2 separate regions of the Homo sapiens genome follow, and region 1 is linked to region 2. The links come from fine-mapping of genetic effects on plasma protein levels. A gene starts in region 2. The other region holds a variant in brackets. All regions are shown on one strand. Distances are from middle to middle.

Region 1 (12,862 bases), 150 kb before region 2:
AGGGTCGGGGGAGGGGATAGCATTAGGAGATATACCTAATGTAAATGATGAGTTAATGGGTGCAGCACACCAACATGGCACATGTATACATATGTAAAAAACCTGCACGTTGTGTACATGTACCGTAGAACTTAAAGTATAATAAAAAAATAAAATAAAATAAAAAAAGAAATCCAAGCCAGGTCAAAACCAAAACCCAAGTATCAAGCAATCCAAGTCAAGTCAAAAACAAAAACCAAAGCGCAGGTACAGGCTGCCATGGGTGATCAGGCCACGCTTCCACTCAAATGGAGTGGGCGAGTTCCGAAGACCAGTCTTACCAAGTTTCAGATGTCCAGACTCCTAGTGCCAGTTCCTTCCCGGTGTTCAGCCACTGCGTTGATCCTCCACGGGGGCCTGCCAGGCACTGCTCTGGTGAGCTGTTCCACTAGGGCAATTGCCTACCCGCGAGCGCTCTCAGGATTCGTGTTGCTCAAGCTGGCTGGAGTCCCCCACAGGGATGTTCCACAGGGCAGACCTAAGCCTCCTAAGGGGCTGCCTCGAAGTCTGTTAATCACCTCGCTTCCCGGTCAGGGAACCAAGAAATGTAGCAGGACAAGCCACAGACAAAACCCCTCAGACACCAAGTTAAAGAAGGAAGGGCTTTATTAGGCCAGGAGCTTCGGCAAGACTCACGTCTCTAAAAACGGAGCTGCCCGAGTGAGCAATTCCTGTCCCTTTTAAGGGCTTACAACTCTAAGGGGGTTTGCGTGAGAGGGTCGTGATTGATTGAGCAAACAGGGGGTACGTGACTGGGGGCTGCATGCACTGGTAATCAGAATGGAACAGAACAGGACAGGGATTTTCACAGTGCTTTTCCATACAATGTCTGGAATCTATAGACAACATAACCAGTTAGGTCAGGGGTCAATCTTTAACCAGGCCCAGGGTGCGGCGCTGGGCTCTCTGCCTGTGGATTTCATTTCTGTCTTTTAGTTTTTACTTCTTCTTTCTTTGGAGGCAGAAATTGGGCATAAGACAATATGAGGGGTAGTCTTCTCCCTTAATAAGCTATTTTGTTTTATTCAGAATTTTATCTTCCAAGAGCAAATATTTCCTGGAGAGCAAGTACCTAATCTATTTTTGTTTGCTTTTGGTATTTCACTTGGGACAGGAAAGAATGTCCAGTACCAGTATTGTTTATCACAAGGACAGGAAAGTATGTTGGTTTGAATTCTCAGCCATCAGGAAAACTTACTTCTAAAGTTCTAAAATTCACCCTCAAATTTTTAATTTATATTTTCTCTTCTTTGTCCACCACCCAGTTTTCCTCAGCTTTGTTGTTTAAGTAGTCGATAACCTCATTTCTTATCTTAGTCACTAAATAGGCTTCAGGCTCAGATTTGATCAGCAGGGGATCTTATTATCTTCCTCTTTCCAGTGTCATTATCTACCATGAAATTAGTTGTCTAGCTAATTTTAAGAGTCTAGTTGTTGGAATGGTGAATTATTCCCAGGGTAAAGTGTTTCCTTTTCACTGTATTCATCAATGCCCCTCAAAACTCCCTGGGCAAGTCACTATTTATTCTGGGGATGATTTTTTAAAACACCCCCCACCTAAAAAGTACTTTCACTCACTGGTAAGCTGAATCCTTTGTCTGAAGCCTTCCTTTACTGCCATAAAGAAGGGAAGGGTGAATACCACAGCATAGGGAAAAGAAGGCTAGAATATAGGAACATTTCAATCTGACAGGAAGCAGAGAGCCTGTGGCTGGCAGAATAATCCCCACCACCACCACTGCCACCTAGATATATACACACATTCTAGTCCCAGGAATCTGTGAATACATTACCTTACACGGCAAAAGGGATTTTGCTAATGTGATTAAGAGCCTTCAGACAGGTGGGCCAAATGTAATCACAAGGGTTTTTAAGAGTGGAGAGGGAGACAGAATCAGGGAGAGGTGATTATGCATGAAGGATGGAGGACTGCAGTTTAAGAAGGGCTCAACCCTCTACAGGTGGCTTTGAAAATGGGGAAAGGGGGCCATGAGCTAAGAATTGCCAGCAGCCTAAAGAAGCTGGAAAAGGCAAGGAAAGGAATTTTCCCCCTAGAGCTTCCTTTGGAAGCCTTAATTTTAGCCCAGTGAGATTCATGTCAGACTTCTGACCTCCAGCATATAAAATAATACATGTCTATTGTTTTTGCACCACTAAATTTGTGTGATAATTACAGCGGCAATAGAAAGCTAATCCAGAGCCCTTCTGGTTCTGAACAAGAGAAGTTCCGACACAGAGAGCAAGAGCAAGGGCCAGGCAAGAGGTGAGATGTCTTCTCACATCAATACTCAACTAGGGAGGAAAGGGGCAGAGGAGAGCAAGAGGCTCAGAAACACGGAGTCTTGTCTCCTCCTGCTCCCTAGAGGATGTATCCACTTCTTGCACACACAGACACCACACTAAGAACAAAGGCAGATCCCTGAGTGAGGAGAAACAGCCCAAGGGAATTTTATGTTGATTGCTACTTATTTTGTATATGCAGTGATTTATAATTTAAACCAGATGACAGCTGGGCATGGTGGCTCATGCCTGTAATCCCAGCACTTTGGGAAGCCAATGCGGGCAGACCACTTGAGGTCAGGAGTTTTTGAGACCAGTCTGGCCAACATTGCAAAACCATGTCTCTACTAAAAATACAAAAATTAGCAGGGCATGGTGGCACATGCCTATAGTCTAGCTACTTGGGAGGCTGAGGCACAAGAAACACTTGAGCCGGGAGGCAGACGTAGTGAGCTGAGATCATGCCACTGCACTCCAGCCTGGGCAACAGAGTGAGACTCCATCTCATACACGTACAAAAAAAATAATCAATTAATTAATAAGCCAGATGAGAATGTAGCCTTTGAATGGCAATTTTTTTCTTGCCTCAGTAAGAACACAGGTTCAGATCAAGATAAACAAACATAAAGGCATTTTTGCATTACACATACATTCACAAATTCAATAGACTAAAACGAATATACATTATTTTATTTCATTCTCTACTTCTCCCTCTCTCTCCATGGAACTGGTGATAATCTTGGTGAGACTAAGGAAACGGTCCCTGAATACTTTTATGTATACTATGTTGTTTTTCTCATACTCCAGGATTTTTATCACTATTAAGAATCATAATCACTAGTTTTGTCACTTGTTCAAAATACTGTCTAAGCCCTGGGTCAAGACTTACTGATATCCATGAAAGGTTTTGCTTTTCCCTAAAGCATACTGCAGATGGCTGGCTATTTTGTCAGTGGAAAGATCTGTGTGATGTTGTCTTGCTCTGTCCTCCTATATAGCATGTTTCACTTCTGAAGTCTTTCAGGTGACCACGTTCCTTCTGGGGTAGGACTATTCTCTGCTTCTGTGACCCTACAGTCACATCATCACCACAATATGGACATTTTAACCCCATTTTGGAGAGAAAAGTCATTTCCTGCTTAGAATTTGGGCAGAAAATGGATTCACTTTTTCAGGCATGGTCGTGGCACCATAGACTCTCTCCACTGACCACTGGCTCTGGACTGTACTGGCAGACTCCAACTCTATATGAATTATACTAGACTTCACATAGGAAAAAGACAGAAGTGGCAAAACCAGAGATGCCCTACCAGAAACTCCTTAAGAAGCCTGGAGCACAAAGCTCACTACAAAACTATTATATGAGCTGGTTACATAAGCAACCATAAATGGGATTTGCTTTCTCTTTGGCCTGGTTGTGGTAGGAGCACATTGCAGGACAAAATGGAGGAACGGGAGGTGCCACCAGAGAATCAAGGACAGGAAGTGGCAAATAACACATGTGAGAAAAGGTTCAGGACTCACTGCAGCAACCTGGGGTCAAAGGAGCCCTCAAGGCGTCAACATCCAACAGAAATGACAAACAAGAGCAAGATGGTTTTGTTGCTGCTGTCTGACTTGTTCTCCCAGAACTCAGGGCCTCCTTTCTCCCTCTTCCCTGAGTAAACGGCAAGAAGGAAAGGGTTTAAATTCTGGCAAAACAAAGTTTTTATGTCTCTTTAGATAAGGAAAGGGATAAGACTTGAGTGATTTGCCAAGTTCACACAGCTACTCATTTTTAGAGCCAGTTTTCAGAGCGAGATCAGTTCGATTCCAAGGCCCCAACTCTTTTTACCCTATCATGTGGCACTTAGCTTGGGGAAGTAATCAGGCTAGGGAAGTAGGGTTGGTTGTGTCCCAGTTCTGGGTGAAGGTTGGAGCCCTCTCTGATTTTATTTGCAGCTGCTACCTGTTTATGGTTTCAAGACACATATAAGCTGAGCTTTATTTGACTGCCATCTAGTGGTCATTTAATTTTGTTTTTTTCCTTTTTTCTTTTTTTTTGAAAGACAGGGCCTCATTTTCTTGCCCAGGCTGGAGTGCAGTGGCGCGATCTGCAGCCTCAACCTCCTGGGCTCAAGCGATCCTCCCGCCTCAGCCTCCCAAGTAGCTGAGACTATAGATGCACACCAACACACCCAGTTAGTTTTTGTTTTTGTTTTGTTTTTAGTAGAAACAAGGTCTCCTTATATTGCCCAGACTGGGCTCTAAGCTCAAGCAATCCTCCCACCTCAGCCTCCCAAAGTACTGAGATTTCAGGCATGAGCCACCGTGCCTGGCCCATTTAATTTCTTTATGGAAGCTACGTAAGGTTGTTTATTGTGTTTTTGCTGAAAAGCCATGAAAACCATTTAAGTTTGCAAAGATGTACACTAAGAAATGAAGAACGTTTCCCAAAATCTTGTGTGACCACATCACAGAGAAATCTAAAAACTATGAGATCCCTGAAAATAGACTTTACATTTAGTCTCTTACTGGTGGAAAAATGTTGACAGACTTAATATAAAGGATCACAAAGAGTGAAAGAAGTAAGACTAGACTAGAAGAAATTAATATTCCCCAGGCAGGCTCCTTCTTTCCTATATATTATCTATGTAGAGAGGCAATAAAGCTTATGAGCAAAAGCACAGGCTTCAAAACTCGGTTTCTTGGGCTGAGTTCAGCTCCAGGCCTTATTAGCTCAGTGGCCTTGGCCAAGTTGCTTAACCTTCCTTAGCCTCTTTCCCGTGTGTGGAGTATAATACCTCCTAGCACGCAGGATTGTTGAGATGATTAGATAGGATAGACAGGTAAATTAGATAGCAATTACTTGGAATAGCACTTGGTATGTGGTAAGCACAATATAAACATTAGCTATGTTTGACGCGATGCCTACTTTTAAAGGTAAGTTTACTATAAAATGTAGGGTAAACTGACCATCTAAAGTCCAGTATATAAAATTTGTTAAATACATTTTAAGAGCCTAATGCAGTCCCTGGAAGAATGTCTGTTTTATAGCAATCGGCATGATAGTGGTTAGTCTTGAGGAGATATTATACTTGAATATTTGAGGAAGGAAGAAAAGGTAGGAGACGGTAAAGACAAGGGGTAGAGAGAATACCTCCCCTTTTGTCACTTATTCATCCACTAAACATTTACTGATTGTCTACTACATGCTAAAGACCATACTAGGTCATTTTAGGTCAGTGGTTCTCAAAGTGTGGTCCACAAGGTCAAAACAACTTTCATGATAATACGAAGATGCTAGTTGCTTTTCTCATTGTGTTGAGATTTGCACTGCTAGTGTAAACGCAGTGGTGACGGTGACTAGAACTGCTAGGCACGCATCAAGACAGTGGTACCATTTTGTTACTGTGTTCTTCACCACCATACCCAGTACAGGAAACCCCTTCCTTTTATCAAAGTGAACATTTTATTTTTCTCTTATAATTTCATATCATGCATTGAGATTGATAAATTTCCTGATATGAAATCTCTCCCTGTGAGATTTGGTTTATGATGATCAGGTTTAAAGTTATGCTGGATTCATAAAATAAATTGGGTGGCTTTCCATCTTTTTCTACAGTTTGAGTAGCTTAAAGACCAATTAAAACACAGCCATCATCTGGCCTTGCTGTCTTTCTCAGTTGTAGAGCCTTAAATACGTTTCAAATTCACTTACGGTGTGTTTAGTCAATTAAAAATTTCAACTTCTTCTTTGAGTCAGTATTCATTCTTTAAAGTTCCATAACTTAACAGATGTCTTGGTGTTACATATCATGCCATTTTTTTCCTCCTGGGACATAAAGGATTTTAATCAAGGTTTTCTTCTGGACAACTTTTTTTTTGTTATATAAAACACAGGTATCCATAAAGATACTTGTGTCTGATTACTCACGTTTCCATGGTGTCAGTTATTTGATGAATAGCACAGCAAGGAAGAAGAGCTATAAATTGTTAGCCAAAATATTCTCTCATTACATCTGTCTTCCCTAAGAGCATGTCTCCTTCTCCTTGGTTTTCAGACTTCCAATTATTAGGGCTTACAGTTAGTGAGGCTTCTCTTTCAGCTCCACATTCCCCAGCTATCCTTCTGTACAGGATTTGAGCCTACAATGATCAGATGAGCCTTTCAGAGAAATCTGCATCTGGCACAAAGTCTGGGAAAGTTTATATCAGATTTCAGGTTGCTCCCTCCAAAACATTTGGAAGGTATTTTTACTATTATAAATTGTAGCTTCCTTATTTCATCTGAAAAGCAATGTTTTTATCTTAAATCTGCTTTTTAATCTATTAATATCAAATCTTTTTCATTGTACTTACTGTTTTTAATGAGTCTCAAGGGAGGAAAAGACAGTAAAAATGTCATCACTCCGTCACATCGTTTACATTCTGTTCAGTTAATGTTTAGGAATATCTCTAAAAATCCACTCTACCATGAAAAGTTAACATGTGATTTTATTAAAGAATTGTTACTCATTGGGCATGGTGGCTAATGCCTGTAATCCAAGCACTCTGGGAGGCCGAGGGGAGCAGCGCGGATTGCTTTAACTCAGGAGTTCAAGACCAGCCCAGGCAACATGGTGAAACCCAGTATCAAAAACAAAACAAACAAAAAAAAATTAGGTGGGTGTGGTGGCATGCACCTGTAGTCCCAACTACTCAAGAGGCTGATGCAGGAGGATTGCTGGAGCCCAGGAGGCAGAGGTTGTAGTTAGCTGAGGTCGCACCACGGCACTCTAGCCAGGGTAATAGAGAAGGACCCTGACTGGAATAAAAAAAAAAAAAAGTTTCTCAATGCACTTAAAATGTAGTTTTACTTTCAATAACTTTATTCACACACTTTTAAAGGGAACTGAAATGTAGTCAGTAAGAAACACTTGGAACCTGATAGGAAATAATACCATCCAATAGTTGCAAAATAGCCACACCTTTCATGACAGAAAAAAACTATTGACTCTATACAAAAAATACTGATATCTATTTGTGAATTTATTTTCCTTACATGGAAGAGCAGATTCACAAAAATGGTGTCAGTGGTAAAATAAATGCAACAGGATTCAGAAAAAAAAATTTTAACACCCAGACCCAGTCTCTCTTGCATCTTGAGAATACAGCCTAATAAATCCAGGTGAGTTAAACTGCTACCTGCTTTTATTTCCTAGAACTGGGCTAAATTTGCAAATTGTATTTTCAGACAAAACCATCTGCACTCTTCAAACACAAATTCTATAGTCCAAAACTTTTACCATTATATGCCTCCAAAGTTTTTTGTCTAGTGCTTCTAAAAGCCAGTAAGAACTAGAAATTTTTTAAATAAGATTTTAAAAATCTTATGACACACTAATTTTCCACATTGCTTTATAGTGGTGTCCTATTCCTTCTGTTTCAAATCTTCCAGCACACTACTAGAATCTCTAAAGCTATATGTGATCTATGTTCAGCAAAAGTATGTGGACCTTAATGTTCTCCTGATTTCATCTTGTTTTCTGTTATTTATCAGGACTTTTTCGGTTGTGAGTTCAGAAACCCAACAAGCTTATGAGCAAGTCTGTGCTTATAGAACCAAGCAATAGACAGCTGAGACTCAGCAACAGCTACAATCAGTTTCAAAGTCCTTCCAGATTCTGTTTCCATCTATCTATGCTCTACTAAATTTTGTTTTTCAAATCAGCTTTTTCCAGATGACAGAAAAACAGAACTGTGGAGAGCTCCCATGCTGAGATTAGCTCTTTTTGTTTCCAATTTTAAAAATTTCATTCTTTGATTAACTCAGTAACTCAGTTTGAGCCAAGTACTCTCTCAAGGGATTTCCTGGGTGGGGTGATCAAGGAGGTAGAATCTGTAAGATGGTAGCAGCTCCCCTTTGAACAATATAATACAAATGAAAGGAGCATCTCCCCAAAGAAAAGGATACTATACCGTATTCAGGGGGAAAGGATACACAATGCCTCCTTTTTCTTAACCTTATCCATCTAATTTTTATCATATCCATCACTGTAAAATGCTTTTTAAAAAGGTAAAACAGCAGCCTCCATTTTTTTTT[T/A]AAAAAAAACCTACTCTATGCCAAGCACTCTACAAAGCCATTTAGATAAACTATTTCAAATTCTCCCCATAATCCTGTAAAGTAGAAATTACTGTCTCAGTTTCAGATGAAAAACCAGACTCAGAAAAGTTCAGTAAAAGTCATACGGGTCTAGAATTTTTAATGTTTTTGGTTTACTATTTATTCTTGTATTTGGAAATTGAAGTAATATAATTTTCATCATACTCTGAAATACACAAATGCTAAAGTTAACAAAAAATAACCAATAAAGACTGACACGACTGGCAATAAAATCCTTTAATTTTTCTTTTTGAGAGAGAAGCATGCTTTTAAATACAGCACCTGTAAACAAGTTAGTGAAGTATATACTATTTTGAGATTCCCCCTCTCAATTTTTTTTTTGGAATGTTAGGTTACAACATCAACTGCATTACGTAACAGTTATTGAAAGCAAGTCAGGGTAAAATTTTATAGCCAAAAATATTCATAGCAGCAACTTTTAAAATATGATTTTATTAAATCAAGTCATTGCACTTGGTCATTTTATTGCTACAGCAAAACAAGGCCTTTACATTATAATACTTCTCATTTCTGATTTAACTGATTGTCTCATTCTGCTCATACATTTCAAGTTTAAATGCAAGCATAAAATGTTTATCAACAAATCTAGAGAGCACTTGGATTTTTAATTTTTCTGTGATCACAGTAAGGAGCATAAAAAAGAGTATCTTCTGTTACACAAGGCCTGTTCTCTCTTTACATCTTCAGACTTAAATTCTGTAGAAGGTAACAGCTTTGTATTAAGACAGAAGCTTAGTGGTCACAAACAAAAAATAACACTGAAATACAATTCAGAAATTAATGATACTGTGTGTCTCAAAGAATACCTGAACTATACATTCACTAATAATTTGGCAATGAGATTCCATGCTGTTCAACTTTTGTCTTTTATACTCACACGTAGAAAAAAAATTCATGATTTACCCCAAGGTTATTATTAAATATCATTTTGTGATATGAACTTTAGTAATAGAAATTAATAACATTTCCCATACCAACAGAAAGTAAGTTGCTAGAATAAAGGAATCATTTTTCCCATCAGGCCTGGGTTTGTTTGGTTTTCTTTACTATTTTATCAAGGACAGAAAGGTAAAAGTATTTCAGTTACTTTTCTATTCTGACTGAGGAGGACACAAGCAAAAACTTTAAATACATTTCCATGCTCATAAGCATCTTGATTTCATGTACTATTGAGAAAATGACCAACAAAAACTTTAAGAACAGCCTGAAATCTGCTGGAAACTTCCCTCATCCCATTATTAGGATGACCAGGGATCACTTCAATAGATTTTCAGGTGAGAAAGCTGGAGGATAATTTCTAGGATTACAATATTTTTGTTTTACCTAAGGTTGGTCATTAAAAGAAAGTAAGATTTAATTTATTTAACAAGAAGAAAATAATTCATTTGACTAGTCATTTAAACCTATTCTATTTAACAGAAGAGGGAACAATTTTGTTCAGTAGTGACCTCATTAGAAGAGCCCATTTTGAAGAGTTCTAATGTATATTCTCAATATATAATTAGCATTCCCCCAAACCCCTAATGTAAGTTGTAAATTAAACATTATGTTGTTTACTGGCATTTCTATTTTCTACTTCAGTTCTCTTTATTTGAAACATGACAAAATTTCATTTACATAAGATTTCTATATTATAAGATTAAAATTTAAAGGAAAAATATTGGTTTGGTGGTTTAAAACTAAAAAAAATGGAAGCATGATCATTGGTACTCAAAAATCTGACACTCATTTGCGATATAATAAAGCATAAAACAATTTTTTGCAAATAAAAAATTTCAAATTTTAAAAATTTAAATAAACCCACTTGTGTTTTAGATGTTACCTACAGACAGAACATTTTAAAGCATTCAACTGTTCATAAGTAACTCTGAAGAAACAACTAATTCATCCATTCTGTGAAAATGTATTTTAAATATGTTCAACTATATTTGGTTTTAAATAAGCTGTAATGTTATATTTTATGACATACTAACATTCTTTATAAAGTTTGTACCTAAATAATAGTTCAAAATATCTCCATGAGTTAGTTTGGTCTATTAGGTAAATTATACATCGTAAAACCTGAGTATTTACAAGTTAACTTGTCAAAATAGGAAACCTCACACTGAAGTTCTGAAAAGCTTTGGGTTTTGTTTTCCTATTACCATTATTAAAAGTCAGAAGGAGAAACATGAAGAACTAAGTGACAAGATAATGAGAAATATTTGAGGCTGTAAAATAAGCAGAAAAGTACAGCAACAGGCTGGTGTTTACATATTTTATATGTGCTGTAGTTTCTAGGCACAAGTTAAGGGTTAAATTAACAGTTTTAGATTCTTCAGACCTAACAAATTTAAAATACAGTTCATATTTCCCCAAATGTTTAACAATCCAACATATTTTAACTAAGTTCCTTTTATGACTCCTATAGTGCAAGCAACATAAAATATTCTAAAAGTTGATGAAATTATTTTGATTATTCATTAGTTCTTACTATATGCATGGGTGAGTAATCTGGTTTATATAGCTAGGAAACTCCTATTTCATCACCCAAAATATAAACAGCATTGCAGACAAACAGGCACAACAGTGTAACCTTCGGTAAGAGGATAAAAGTAAAAATATATATATATATATACACACACACACACACACACACACACACACACACACACACACAGAGTTTATATCCCTTATGCATTATGGAAAAAGTAGTGACTATAGTTACTAAAAGGCTAATCTGTCCCTCTCAAATAGTATATCTTAACAGATTACTTGTAAATATATCACCATATTTATAGTATAGATCTCTTTAAAAATAATACAAGTTTCAATAAAAAAACTACTGTGCACATTCTTATTTATATTCAGTAGTATTTTCAAGCAAACAATTTTTTAAAAAGTGTTTGCAATCCCAGCACAGTTAAGAAATAAGGCCTCTTTTTCTTCATATTGGCAAAACAAAATATATATATAAATTCACCCTCACTCTACTTTTCTATAGATATTACACTTCATTTGCTCATATTTATCACAACAACAGAATTCACAATTTTTAAGTAACAAGTCAGCTGAAGTTCATAGCGTTGCTTCTGAATCCCTGGAACATTATGAACACCAGGTCCACACCACTCAAGAAGACAGGACAGCTTTTTTCAGCTTCTCTATTTCCATCTAAAACAAAAAACATAAATTGAGCAAACATAAAATATCCTTAGTTTAGTAGTTTATTTTACTCTATGTCATTAAGATGTGATCATACTTTCAAGCCTTCAGACTTTTTTTCCAGACCTAAAATCCAGTTTCCCATGCTATAATTTGGTTGAATAAAGTTTCAACAGTACAATGCAAGTTCCTAAATGGCAGTTACAATAAGAAAAAAGCAATTATAGCCCTTTCAGCCAGAACAAATGTTAAGTCATGTGAGCATTTAAAATTAAAGCTGTAAAAAAATCAGTCAGTCCTACAAAGAACAAAAGAATCCTTGAAACCAAATTAAGAAATGTACATGTATCTATAATTAAACAAAGGATACATAAACAACAGTAAAAAGAATAGAGACCTGTTTAGTTCCATGTTTTTCACTAATTATACTTAATTATAATTATAATTATTGTTAAATCACTTGACTTGGTTTCAATTTACTTATCTGTAACCAGTATATACTACATTAAATATCTTAAAGCCCAGGAATATATCTAAGATTCAGTCAAGGTGCTTGATATAGTTCCACCTTTAGGCAGAAGGAAATTCATAACTTAAGGAATTTATGAAGAAGGAGATCATTTCATTAAGTTTGCACAATAACTACACAGAGTTATTCAATACTGCCATATTCAAATGGCTAGGTTGAGGCTCAAAGACATTAAACAGGATGCCAATGTTCCACACTAACAAGTGACACAGGACTTGTCATGGTAAGATTTAGGGCTTTAAAGCCCATGGTTTTTATATTGATTTCTCTTCTCAATTCTATAACATTTTGATCATCTTTAACCTTTCCCTGCATGAGGAAATATATAGGCCTTGCCTTATCCTGATGGCATCACCTTCCTCAAGAGTGCACATAAACAATACATGCTTTGGCTAGCTTCGACAAACAGCACATTATTAAACGATTAGGACTTTGCCATAGTCAAAAAGTATAATTTTTATATGTTCACAATCTCCTAAAGGATTATAACTACTCAAGAACCGTTTATTAATTTCAGGATCTTCCTTGATATGATTCTGTAAATATTATGATGATTAGCTCAATGTTTTAGCAGCACTGGACTACAACAAGCCTGTCTTCAATTTGGATTGAGACGATAGCTTTCATTGTCAGCCCGATCTGTTATTAAAGTCTTTATTCCAAAGATACAGAAAGCGGTAAGAAAAACAAATTGGTAGAAGAGGGAGTAGGGAGTGTGAAGGCTA
Region 2 (12,862 bases):
GCAGAGGCAAGAGTTTGAGGCTGCAGTGAGCTATGATCATGCCACTGAACTCCAACCTGGGTAACAGAGCAAGACCTTGTCTCTAAAAATAAGTAAATAAATAACATATAAATAAAAATTTTTAAAATATTTTCTCCAAACAGTACAACAAAGTAACATAAAGAAATCACTCTATTATAGAAGTGCATATATCATCTAAACCAACCACAAATTTGTCTATTAAAACCACCACGAGGCCAGGTGCAGTGGCTCACGCCTGTAATCCCAGCACTTTGGGAGGCCAAAGCGGGCAGATCACATGAGGTCAGGAGTTCGAGACCAGCCTGACCAACATGGTGAAACCCTGTCTCTACTAAAAATGCAAAAATTAGCTGGGCATGGTGGCACACACCTGTAATCCCAGCTACTGAGGAGGATGAGACAAGAGAATCCCTTGAACCCAGGAGGCGGAGGTTGCGGTGAGCCGAGATCGCACCACAGCACTCCAGCTTGGGCAACAGAGCAAAACTCCATCAAAAAAACAAACAAACAAACAAAAAAACACCACCACATGACTGATATGTTTTATATACGAGAGCCTATAAAATAAACTAAAAAGTTCACCGCCTTATCTAAAATTATTAAAGAGAAATTCTGCCCTTAGAAGTCTGCTTACTCTTCCAAAAATAAAAATTCACAAATATTCCTTTTTTGTGCTCTAGAAATGCTCTGACACTTTGTGCCATTTGCTTTCTGCCTAATTCTGCTCCAAAATGCCGATCTGTATTTTTGGAATAAGAAAAATAAGCACTGCCTATCTGTCTCCCTAGAGCTCTTCCCAAATTCTTTCACACAGAATACCTCAAACTTCTCAATAGGCATTTTATCACATTTAACAAATGTAGACACTAAAAACATAAACTTCAAATAAGTCTACTAGTAGTCATCCCACTTAAGAGTTTTTCCTAAGCAACTAAAGCTCTTACCAATAATGGACTTTCGCACAGTACATCCAACATTGAAAAAAGTATCTATGTGGTTTCTGTAAGGTTATATCACATAAAATTCAATTTCTGCCTTAGTGCAAAATCATCTCATCCCTCTGGTCCTTTATTTAAAGAAAATATCCTACTTCTAACAAAGGTCAAAAATTGAGATTTTTTTTTTCCCAAGTTGGTACAAGAATTAGGGAAATCATTTGAAAATGAAAATCACCACCGCCAGCACTGGCAGTGTTCTAAGCACTTTACAAGTAGTAACTCATTCAATCCTCCTAACAACCTATGAGGTTGATATTTTATTCCATTTATAGATTGAGAAACTGAAGCACAGAGAAGTAATGTGCTCAGTCACACAGCCAGTAGGTAGAAGAGAATTTGACCTCAAGTAGTCTCTGTCCAGAGCCCATGCTTTTAACTCTCTAGCTGTACCACCTAAACTTAAGAACCACCATTTAATAGGCATCCAAATTATCTTACACACAAAAAAAATTTCAGATTTTTTCATTTTGTGACAAATTAGATAAAATATCATGTAAATATTTTAGGCTGCATCTAAAATCATAAGAAAAAAGGATGGCTGGTAAAACCAAATAAATGAGATTTATATTAAAGAGCAAACTCCCTTTAAGTGAACTTGGGAATTTTATTATTACATGACCAATAAACTTAAAGAATATATATATTGATATGGAAATGTTTCACAAACACTTTACAAAAACTTAACCACAAATGCCCTCAGTAACATACCTTCAAAACACATTCTAAGTAGTCGAGAGTATACCAACATTGATATCCAAGTCTATATGAAAACTCACCTAAACAGAACACAACAAATAAATCACAAAGAAAAAGCCTCTGGACAATCAAAATAGGTATTCCAATGTCCAAGTATTGGTACACATTTACTTTTCTCCAGAGACGACCTCACACACTAAGTAACGGCCTACTGATTTTTCCCCTATGCAGAATCACAAACCTGAATATGATTTCCACACTTCTAAAAAAAAATTAGAAAAGGAAAGATGATGGGGGACACTAATCAGTTACAAGCACATCCAAAAGCAAAGCAAAAAAAAAAAGTATTTAAATAATTTCAAAATGCGAACAAATATTATTTAGAATTTAGCTCAAAAGCCCTATATGCAAAACAAGACTGCATCCCCAGGTCATCCAAAGTAGTTTAATTTTATTCTGCATCCCATTTAAGACAGAAAAGAACTGTGTAATTAACTTTAGTATTATCTTAATCCAAAGCAGTTAAAGTGATTTTATAATTTCATACTTAAAAGAATATGCCCACAATTGCCCTGCAAGCTCAACTAATCAATTATAAAATAATTCATTTGAAAATTCCAAATAGCAAATGTTTTATTTCACTGTTTTTGAGCTCAAGAGCACTTTTGAGTATGAAAGTTACCTGAAAGGAGGGAGGTGGAGAAGGGAACATAAAATTAGAAAAGTCTAAGAAAACAGAGGATAGCTAGGCGAGTGTCTATAAACAATATGCTCAAAACATCCCCCACAAAGCAAAGTGTGGACAGAGGGTGCCACATCAGCAGTAGTCTGTATTCGTCCTGCTTCTAAATCATTTGTTAATTACATGAATTATTCATTTCGGTGATCGTTTGTTGATATGAAGCAGTACCAACTCTCAACTGCAAAAAGTGATAGGGTCCTCCTGATTTGCTCTACAAAAATCAAACTTGGGTTTACTCTTACAGAACACGTTCTGCCTTATAGAGACACAGGGTGTTTTGTTTTTTGTAAGCTATTCTTAAGTTGCTTTTAATTTTTAAAGGATTGAGGGAGTTAGTTTAATGCCTAGCCCACACCGAACTTTGTTATCAAAAGAAATTGTTACACCACTTAACAAAACTCCTTTTCAACCCGGACTGCCACACATTCTGCCTTCTCTAACTTCAAACAAAACTATAAAGCACATAGTAAATAACATATAAGGCCTTGTATTTTTCTCTCCTCCGGCAAGGAAGTCTAACTCCAAACAGGAAACTGCTCCTCAAAGGATCCAACACTGAAGTCCAAACCCAGTCCTCGGGAGCACACTGAATGCTTAGGTGCCAACACACTTGCCTAGGTAGAACCCGAGTAAAACAAATACTCAAGCTTTCCTGTCCTTGAGGCACCCCTTGCGAGTTTCAGCAGGAAAAAAAAAAAGTTTTTGAACAAATTTATCTCTCTCCTTAAACGTATTCAAAGCCTCGCAGAAAATAAAGAAGTTGAAAGTGCTACTTTATCAAGTTTTTCGATCGCCCTCCCCCATCCCACGAGGAGGGGGAGGGAAGCAAGGGGATGAGGAAGGGAAGGAAGGTCAGGTCTGATTTTAGCTGGGCAAGGGGTTAGCAGAGGTGGCCAGGCGCCCCCGCCCCCCATCCCGCACCTTTCTGGTGAACAGGAAAAGAGGCGGAGAAGGGAGAGCGAGGGAAAGCACCCGCGAGCTCTCCCACCAGTTTCTCCGTGAGAAGAGCAAGGTGGAAGGCAGGGCAAGAAGGGGCGGTGGGGAGAATGGAGAGGGTGGGGTGCTGCCGCTCAGGGGCTGACCGCAGTCGCCTCCCCAGAAGGCCGAGAAAGGGCACAGCCTCCCCGGGTCTGGAAGGTCCGGACGGGCGGCGGGAAGCGCCCGAGTCTCTTACCCATGCTGGGGGCTCCCGCGGGGAGAAGCCGACGTCCGCTCCTCCTCCTCCTCCTCCAGTGGTGGCTCGCGCGGCCGCTCCCGCGGCTGGAGGCGGGACCCGCGCTCCGCGCTAGCCCCTCCTGAGCTCAGGCGGGGCGAAGAGTCGCCTCCATCCGCCCGCGGCGCTCTCCTACCAGTCTCTTCAGCGCGGCCCTCGAGGCAGAGGCAAAGGCGGCGACAGCTCCTCACCCCTGGCCTCCCCAGGAGCCACGGCGGCGGGAGGGCCCTACCCCGCCCGCCCGACCGCGGTTTTCCCACCCTGGCCGCTCCCGCAGTGGGGAGGGACCCACCGGTTTGCCCAGACCCTCGGCTCCAACCCCGAGCGCCCGCCTAGCCTCGGAGCCCGCCCCTCGCCTCTTCCTTAGCACTCGCAGTTAGAAAAGGCGACACCGTAGACTAAGGTGGGGACCCAGACAGAGGCCGAGAAGGTGCGGGGAGCTGGGACCGGGAGGAGGCAAATCTCGCGAGAACGCCCTCGTTCTCCCCGCCCCACCCCGCCCCGTCGCGTTCGGGCTCTCTCCCGGTCCCCACGGCTGCTGCCAGGTGCGGTGACGTCACGGCCGGGGGTCGCGCGCCGACCGCGTCCAGGTGCAGCGAGCGGATGAGGAAGCGGTGCAGAGGAGCTTGGGCTCGCTCTCCCCCCGGAGGCTCGGAACAGCTTGGGCGGGCGTTTGGTCTGGTTTGTCGCCTCAGATGGATCAAAAGGTTTCTGCTGATAGGCAAAGTTGCCCCACTTTCCGCGGCGGCGACGCGGAGTTACTTTCTGCAGCGAAGCAGCCTCGAGGACCTTAAAGGGAAAAGGCGGACAGAAGGAGGGCGAGCGCACTTGATTTCGACCTTTAAGGGAGGCCCAGATGCTGCCAGGCCCCTCAGTTTACCTTGCGAAGTTACTTACGGATCAGCAGCATTTGGTCTTCGTCGGGTGAGGGAGAAACCTAGGCATCAAATAAATTCTGTTTCACAGATTCCTTTAGTCTCTTGTCAGCTGAATGCAACTTTATAATTTGCTTTTTTTCTTTTTAAAGTATAATTTGAGTTGTTACTTGATCGAGAGAAAAATAGGCATCATGATTTGAAATACTGCCAGGCATTTTTTCTAGCGTCAATGTGAAGGAGGGCATAGGATTACTATAGTCAGTCAAACATGAGCTTGGTAGTTACGAAGAAGTATAATTATTTCAGCAAGCTTTTTTTCCCCCTTCTGTTTAAGTAGACCCAATTCCAGGGCAGATGTGTGTGTGAGCGTTTGTTGAACGCCAACTATTGTGCCTAGTGCTTTTTCAAGAAATTTTGTAATTCTCAGTCATCCAGCACTGAAACTGACTTGCCCTTTGGATCCAGGCAGACATGGGTCCTTGAAACTCAGCACAGCCATTTACTTTTTGTGGGACCTTGGATAAATTAACCTGTCTGAACTTCAATTTCTTGAGTATGTTCAAACAAATCTTGCAATGCAGAGCACAGTGGCCCATAGTAGTAACCTTGGACGTATCCATTACCACTATTTCCTATAGGCCTGCTTTTGCCATCTTTTAATTCTTCTAATGCTTCTCAAAAGGTTACATGTGGTAATTTTATAACAAGAATGATCAAACTCACAAACAGCAGCCAAAAAGGATAAAAGAAAAAAGTTGAATATACTCACCTAAACAAGATTACATTGACATCATGGAACATGTGCCTTTTTTAGGTAACAAATATGTGTTCAGCATTATGTTCGTTGTCCCCTACCAAGCAAAAAAATAAAAAGCTAAAGTACAGCGCTAATCCTCAGAGATTTTGCATTCTTCTAGGGGGGTGAGATACGAACACAAAGTTAATTAACAGTATGAGGTAGTGAGGGTCAAATGCTTGAGAATTTAAAGGAAAATAAATTACTGTGGGCAAAGCAAGCTGTAAAGAGAAGGTATGAGTTGAACGAAAGCTTGGGGAAGGCAATAATTCAGTCTGGAGGAGTCCTAGAACTGAGGAATGGAAGTGGATATGCAAACAGAGTATTTCTGAGCCTTTAAGAAATGTGTGTGGCTCAAGCAGCCCATAAGGAAGGCCATTTACGATTTGGAAGAATGAGGCTGGTGATGGGCTAAGAAGGATTCATGAAAGGAGACAAAAATATAAGCTATTGGAAGCACATACATAGGTAGTAAATTCAAGGCCCAGAGCCCTTAAGTTTCTAGAGACTAAATTTCTAGGTCTCTAGAATCCTTAATATTTAAAGAAGAAAGGCCAATGAATAGAATGGAAAAGAAGTTAAGTAAAACAGAAGGGGGAATAAAGACTATCAGATTTGATAATAAGGGCATCTTTGAAAATATAATTTCAGAATATATATAATAGAATATATAATATATAACTACATATTCAGAATATATATATAATAGAAAATTCAGATTAAAGGTTTTATCAATTGAATGATAAGGAAGTGGAGGCCACAGATAAGGTAGATATTTTCTGAGAAGTCAGGTCACATGATCTGACAACAAGATAAAACATTTACAATCATTTATGTCCTAGAAATTCCAGGATCTTCACACTTGTAATCCCAGCAATTTGGGAGGCCAAGGGAGGAGGAGCACTTGAACCCAGGAGTTTGAGACCAGCCTGGGCAACATAGCAAGACTCCATCTCTACAAAAAAAAAAAAAAAAAAAATACAAAAATTAGCCCAGGTATGGTGGCACAGGCCTGCGGTCTCAACTACTTGGGAGGCGGAAGTGAGAGGATCACCTGAGTCCAGGGCCGTCGAGGCTGCAGTGAACTGTGATCCTGCCACTGCACTCCACCCAGCCTGGATGACAGAGTGAGACCCTGTCTCAAAAAAAAAAAAAAAAAAAATTCTAGCATCAGTTATTGCCATAATTAATGTACGTATTTTACAAGTTTAAAAGTTAAATTCACTTTGCAAATTCAGAGGCATTATCCATTGAGGTAATGATGAGATGACAAATCATAGAAATTGGAAGGATCAGGGAATAGAACCCCTAAGAATGGTTGAGAAAACTGAAGTAAATCTAAGAAGTAATCGCAATCCCAAATTTAATGTTGTTTTCCAAAGACAAAGCCAAAGGAAATTCTAACAGAAGAATGAAATCTAGCAATTTACTTTTAAACTTACAAAATGGTATGTAAAAATACCTTCTAAACTTTTGAATGCTATGCAAATATTAGTTATTAATTATTCCTTTAAGCTCTTTTCATCCTTTAAATCTTACCTTCTCAGCTATAAGAGGCCTTCAAGGTATGGCAGTATGTTTTATACGTTTTTATATGGCTACCACCGTCTGCAGCTCAAAACATTGCGTTCCCTGGCAATAATTATTAGTTGAATGAGAGAAAATATGGTGAGAAGATAATTTCTACTTACCACATATATTAAATTTAAATTCCTTTAATCTAAAAACAAATTATCTTTTACTTTTCCCTTTATTTTATTGTTACCTTTATACTGGATTAGGTTTGTTTCTGTCCATCTGTCCTTATTCTTCTTTGTATTCCAGTACAAATGGACTAACACCACTCTAATCATTCACTTTCTTTTTTTCTGCCAAGTACTAAACATGTTGATCTGATATCAAGGAGAGCACTACAGTTCTGTGTGAATGACACAATTTCAGACCAACGTAATTCATGCTAAACTGCCATGATTTCTTCCTGAAGTTTTCTTAGGAATTTATCTGAAGATATCTATATTTTAAAAAAGCATCTGCCTTCTTTCCTTTTGGTAAAAACTATTATAACCAAGAAGATTATGCTAAAGAAAAATAAGTGTTAACTAAATTATATTATTTTTAAAGCACTCATTTAGCTAAAATCTTGTGACTAATTATTTTTTCTTTATTCTCATTCAAAAGTACTAGGTTTCCTGGGAAGTTTTCTTACTGCTACCTTGTTTTGGCCTGGCTAATTTACTGTAAACTTAAGCCCAAATTACATCAATGTATAATCTGCATTTTAAAAATCATTCTTTAGAAAACAATTGTAGGAAATAATAACCTCAATCAGAATGCCTATACTGTGAGATCATTGAAGCTGAAAAATCCCCCTGCTCAAACTGGTGGCCCATTCAGCTTGCAACAAAATACTGTTCCTCGACTAGCAACTTGGGGGATGTCCTCAGGCCTATGACCACTCTAAGCACTTTTCATTATTGCATACTAAGAAAGAGTTAATTAAAAACATGATGACCCATCTAAATGAATCACCACTTGCCAACTGCAAGGACCTTTTTAATGGTGTTATTTGCACTTTATTCAGATGCTAGTGTCATAAAGCTGGCATTTGATAGGCAAGTCATAGGAGACTCATAGGCCTTTAAAGGGAATATCTTTCAAGAAGCATTACTCCTCCCAAATATTAAAGCTAGCTCCTTTTGAAGGGTCACATATTTTAAGTAATCTCAAATAACAAATACATTTGCATTTTCAAATATCAGGCAGTTAAATTATACACATGGTATTATGTAAATAATTTCCAGTCACAAGTACACATTTATTCAACTCAACAGATGTTTTTCTGATCACCCATTACAAATGAGCAGCTTCTGGATGATAAATATAGAGATAGAAATAAAGTCCTTGCCCTTAAAAGAGAAAGGATTGGGGAGTCTCTCGAGGGTACATTGGAATTCTCAGTAAGGACAAGGAAGGGTAGTCAGGTAGCCAGGACAATAGGCAGGTATACAATCCAAAGCCCAGGATGGGCGTGGTAGTTCACGCCTGTAATCCCAATACTTTGGGAGGCCAAGGCGGGCAGATCACCTGAGGTCAGGAGTTCAAGACCAGCCTGGTCAACATGGCGAAACCCTATCTCTACTAAAAATACAAAAATTAGCCAGGCATGGTGGTGGGTGCCTGTAATCCCAGCTACTTGGGAGGCTGAGGCAGGAGAATCACTTGAACCCGGGAAGCAGAGGTTGCAGTGAGCCAAGATCATGCCACTGCACTCCAGCCTGGGTGGCAGAGTAAGACTCCATCTCAAAAAAAAAAAAAAAAAAGGCTAGGATGTCTTTGAGGGGCCAGGCTCTGAGACCACACTCAAATATGGAGAGCACTGTGTGCCAGGGAAGTAATTTGACGTCTTGTTCTAGAAGTAAGAGGCAATTAATGAAGTATTTTAAGTAGGCAACTGATTTGCTTTTCCAGCTACATCCACGGTCATAAAAAAAATGCACACAAGTCACAAAAAATTAGGTACAAAAAAATTTGGTTAAATAAGCATTGATTAAGCACCCACTACCCTCAAATAATTAGTAAATATGTTTTTTTACTAATACAATAAATGTTTAAACTAATATAAGATACAAGGGATTTCATATGCTGGACACTGTGAAAGATTCATTGCAGCAAACACAAACTCTGCCTTCAAGGAATGTGATTTCCAGCTAAGAAGGCAAAGATATACCTAACTATTTCAACTTGCACTTATTTAAATAAAATGTACCTTATTGAGGAGAACCTGCATTTCGAATCAACATGGCACAGACAAATAAACTGGGGAAATTTTCAATTTAATAATTAATTTGTAGTATTCTTATTTGAATCTCTGCAAAATTTTATGCTATAGAAATTTTTAATTTTTGTGGGTACATAGTAGGTGTATAGATTTATGGGGTACATGAGATATTTTTATACAGCCATACAATGCATAATAATCACATCAGGGTAAATGGGATATCCATCACCTCAAGCATTTATCCATTCTTTGTGTTGCAAACAATTCAATTATATTATTTTAGCTATCTTAAGATGTGTAATAAATTATTGTTGACTGTGCTCTCCCTGTTATTCTATTTAATCATACTCATTCTATCTAACTATATTTTTGCACCCATTAACCATTCCCATTCTCCCCACCCCTGCCCAGCCTCTTCTAACCATCATTCTACACTCTGTGAGTTCAATTGTTTTAAATTTTTTACCTCCCACAAATAAGTGAGAACATGCAAAGTTTGTCTTTCTGTTCCTGGCTTAATTCACTTAACATATGACTTCCAGTTCCATTCATGTTTTTGCAGATGACAGGATTCCATTCTTTTCTATGAATGAATAGTACTCCATTGTGTATATGTACCACATTTTCTTTATCCATTCATCTGTTGATGGACACTTAGGTTGATTCCAAATATTGGCTATTGTGAGTAGTGCTGCAATAAACATGAGAGGACAGATATCTCTTTGATATAAGATTTCCTTTCTTTTGGGTATACGCTTAGCAGTAGAATTGCTGGATCATATTATGGTGGTTCTATTTTTAGTTTTATGAGGAACCTCCAAAACTGTTCTCCATAGTGGCTATACTAATTTACATTCCCACCAACAGTGTACAAAGGTTCTCTTTTCTCCACATTCTCACCAGCATTTGTTATTACTTGTCTTTTAGATAAAAGCCATTTTAACTGGGGAGAGATGATATCTCACTGTAGTTTTCATTTGTATTTCTCTGATGATCAATGATGTTGAGCATATTTTCATATACCTGTTTGCCATTTTTTTTTTTTTTTGAGACGGGGTTTTGCTCTTGTTGCCCAGGCTGGAGTGCAATGGCATAATCTTGGCTCACCACAACCTCCGCCTCCCAGGTTCAACCAATTTTCCTGCCTCAGCCTCCCAAGTAGCTGGGATTACAGGCATGCGCCACCATGCCCAGCTAATTTTTGTATTTTTAGTAGAAACAGGGTTTCTTCACATTGGTCAGGCTGGTCTCGAAATCCCAACCTCAGGTGATCCGCCTGCCTTGGCCTCCCAAAGTGCTGGGGTTGCAGGCGTGAGCCACTGCACCTGGCCTCCTGTTTGCCATTTTTATATCTCCTTTTGAGAAATGTCTATTCAGATCTTTTGCCCATTTTTAATCAAATTATTAAATTTCTCCTATAGAGTTATTTAAGCTCTTTATGTACTGTAGTTATTTATCCCTTGTCAGGCAGATAGTTTGCAAATATTTTCTCCCATTCTGTAGGTTGCCTCTTCACTTCGTTGATTGTTTCCTTTGCTGTGCAGACACTCTTTAACATGATGTAATCCCATTTGCCACTTTTGCTTTGGTTTCCTGTGCTTGTGAGGGTACTAATCAAGAAATCTTTGCCCAGTCCAATGTCCTAAAGAGTTTCCCCCAATATTTTCTTTTAGTAGTTTCATAGGTTCAGGTCTTAGAAATTTAAATCTTTACTCCATTTTGATTTGATTTTTGTGTATCACAACAGATGGGATCTAGTTTCATTCTTCTACATATGGGTATCCAGTTTTCCCAGCACCATTTATTGAAGAAACCATTCTTTCCCCAAAGTATGTTCTTGGCACCTTTGTTGAAAATGAGTTCACTGTAGATGTATGGATTAATTTCTATGTTCTCTATTCTGTTCCACTGGTCTATGTGTCTGTTTTTATGCCAGTACCCTGCTGTTTTGGTTAGCACAGCTCTGTAGTATAATTTGAAGTTGCATAACGTAATGCCTCCAGTTTCGTTCTTTTTTGCTCAGGATAGCTTTGGATATTCTGGGTCTTTTGTGGTTCCATATTAATTTTATGATTGTTTTCTCCATTTCTGTGAAGAATGTCATTGGTGTTTTGATAGGAACTGCATTAAATTTGTACATTACTTTGGGTGGTGTGGACATTTTAACAATATTGATTCTTCCAATCCATGAACATGGAATATCTTTCTATTTGTGTGTGTGTGTGTGTGTTTGTGTGTGTATGTGTGTGTCTTCTTCAGTTTCTTTCATCAGTATTTTATGGTTTTGATTGTAGAGAACTTCCACTTCTTTGGTTAATTCCCAAATATATTATTTTATATGTAGTTATTATAAATGGGATTACTTTCTTGATTTCTTTTTTAGATTGTTTGCTGTTGGCATATAGAAATGCTACTGATTTTTGTATGTTGATTTTGTATCCTGCAACTTTACTGAATTTGATTATCAGTTCTAATAGTTTTTTGGTGGCGTCTTTAGGTTTTTCCAAATATAAAATTATATCTTCTGCATGCAAAGATAATTTGACTTCTTCCTTTCCAATTCGGGTGCCCTTTATTCCCTTCTCTTGCCTGATTGCTGTAGATAGAACTTCCAGCACCATGTTGAACAACAGTTGTGAATGTGGACATCTTTTTCTTGTTCCAGATCTTACAGGAAAGGCCATTTTTTCCTCTCATCAGTTTTTCCCCATTCAGTATGATACTAGCTGTGAGTCTGTCATACATGGCTTTTATGGTGTTGAGGTATGTTCCTTCTATACCCAGTTTTTTGGGGGGTTTTTATCATAATGTTGAATTTTATCAAATGGTTTTTAGGCATCAGTTAAAATTATCATATAGTTTTTGTCCTTCATTCTGCTTATATGATGAATCACATTGATTTATTTACTTATGTTGAACCATCTTTGCATATCTGGGATAAATCCCACATGGTCATGATGAATGCTGTTTTTAATGTGCTGTTGGATTCTGTTTGCTAGTATTTTATTGAGGATTTTCACATGAATATTCATCAGAAATATTGACCTGTAGTTTTCTTTTCTTGATGTGTCCTTGTCTGGTTTTGGTATCAGGATAGTATTGGTTTTATAGAATAAGTTTGGAAGTATTCCCTCCTTCTCTATTTTTTGGAATAGTTTGAGAAGCATTGGTATTCGTTCTTCTTTAAATATTTGGTGAAATTCACCAGTGAGGACATTGGATCTTGGACTTTCTTGGCTGGGAGATTCTTTATTATGGCTTCAATCTTGTTACTTGTTATTGCCCTATTCAGGTTTTGAATTTCATAAGCTTCAATCTTAGTAGGTTGTAGGTGTCTAGAAATTTGCCCAAGTCTTCTAGGTTTTCCAATTTATTGGCATATAGTTGCCCATGGTAGCCCCTAATGATCCTTTGAATTTCTGCAGTAACAGTTGTAATGTATCCTTTTTCATCTCTGAATTTATTTATCAGGGTCTTGTCTCTTTTTTCTTAGTCTGGCTAAGAGTTTCTCAATTTATCTTTTTAGAAAACAACTTTTTTCATTTTTTTTAAATTTTAATTTCATTTATCTCCGCTCTGATCTTCATTGTTTCTTTTCTTCACTAATTTTGGGTTTGGTTTGCTCTTGCTTTTCTAGTTTATAAAAATGCATTGTTAGATCATTTATTTGATTTTTTCTACTTTTTTGATGTAGGCGCTTATTGGTAAAAATGTTCCTTTTAGTACTGCTTTTGCTGTAT

Alleles and levels. Positions count from the first base shown, and alleles are read on the strand shown. Strength reflects both the effect of a copy and how common the allele is.
With allele A in place of T in region 1, the plasma level of the protein whose gene starts at base 4,091 in region 2 is lower (strong association).

What was found. PIP is the posterior inclusion probability: the model's chance that the variant is causal. Protein levels are from antibody-based Olink assays in UK Biobank. Linkage for the fine-mapping came from a reference panel and not from the study's own genotypes, which makes the PIPs less certain.
Region 1: its variant is fine-mapped to the plasma level of the CD2AP protein (UK Biobank, PIP above 0.99).

Annotation. Positions count from the first base shown.
Region 1 is chr6:47,622,941-47,635,802 of GRCh38, reverse strand. CD2AP (CD2 associated protein) reads right to left here. Exons shown (of 18, transcript NM_012120.3): 18 at 8,540-11,617. The coding sequence ends at 11,576. Among named protein-coding and RNA genes, the nearest start is that of ADGRF4, 69 kb to the left of the region's middle. The variant T/A (reference allele first, on the strand shown) is at 8,384.
Region 2 is chr6:47,469,018-47,481,879 of GRCh38, reverse strand. It overlaps CD2AP (CD2 associated protein), which reads right to left and starts at 4,091. Exons shown (of 18, transcript NM_012120.3): 1 at 3,632-4,091. The coding sequence starts at 3,635. CD2AP-DT (CD2AP divergent transcript) reads left to right here and starts at 3,808. Exons shown (of 1, transcript NR_187257.1): 1 at 3,808-4,637. RefSeq lists an enhancer at 2,807-3,533 and a silencer at 3,820-4,329.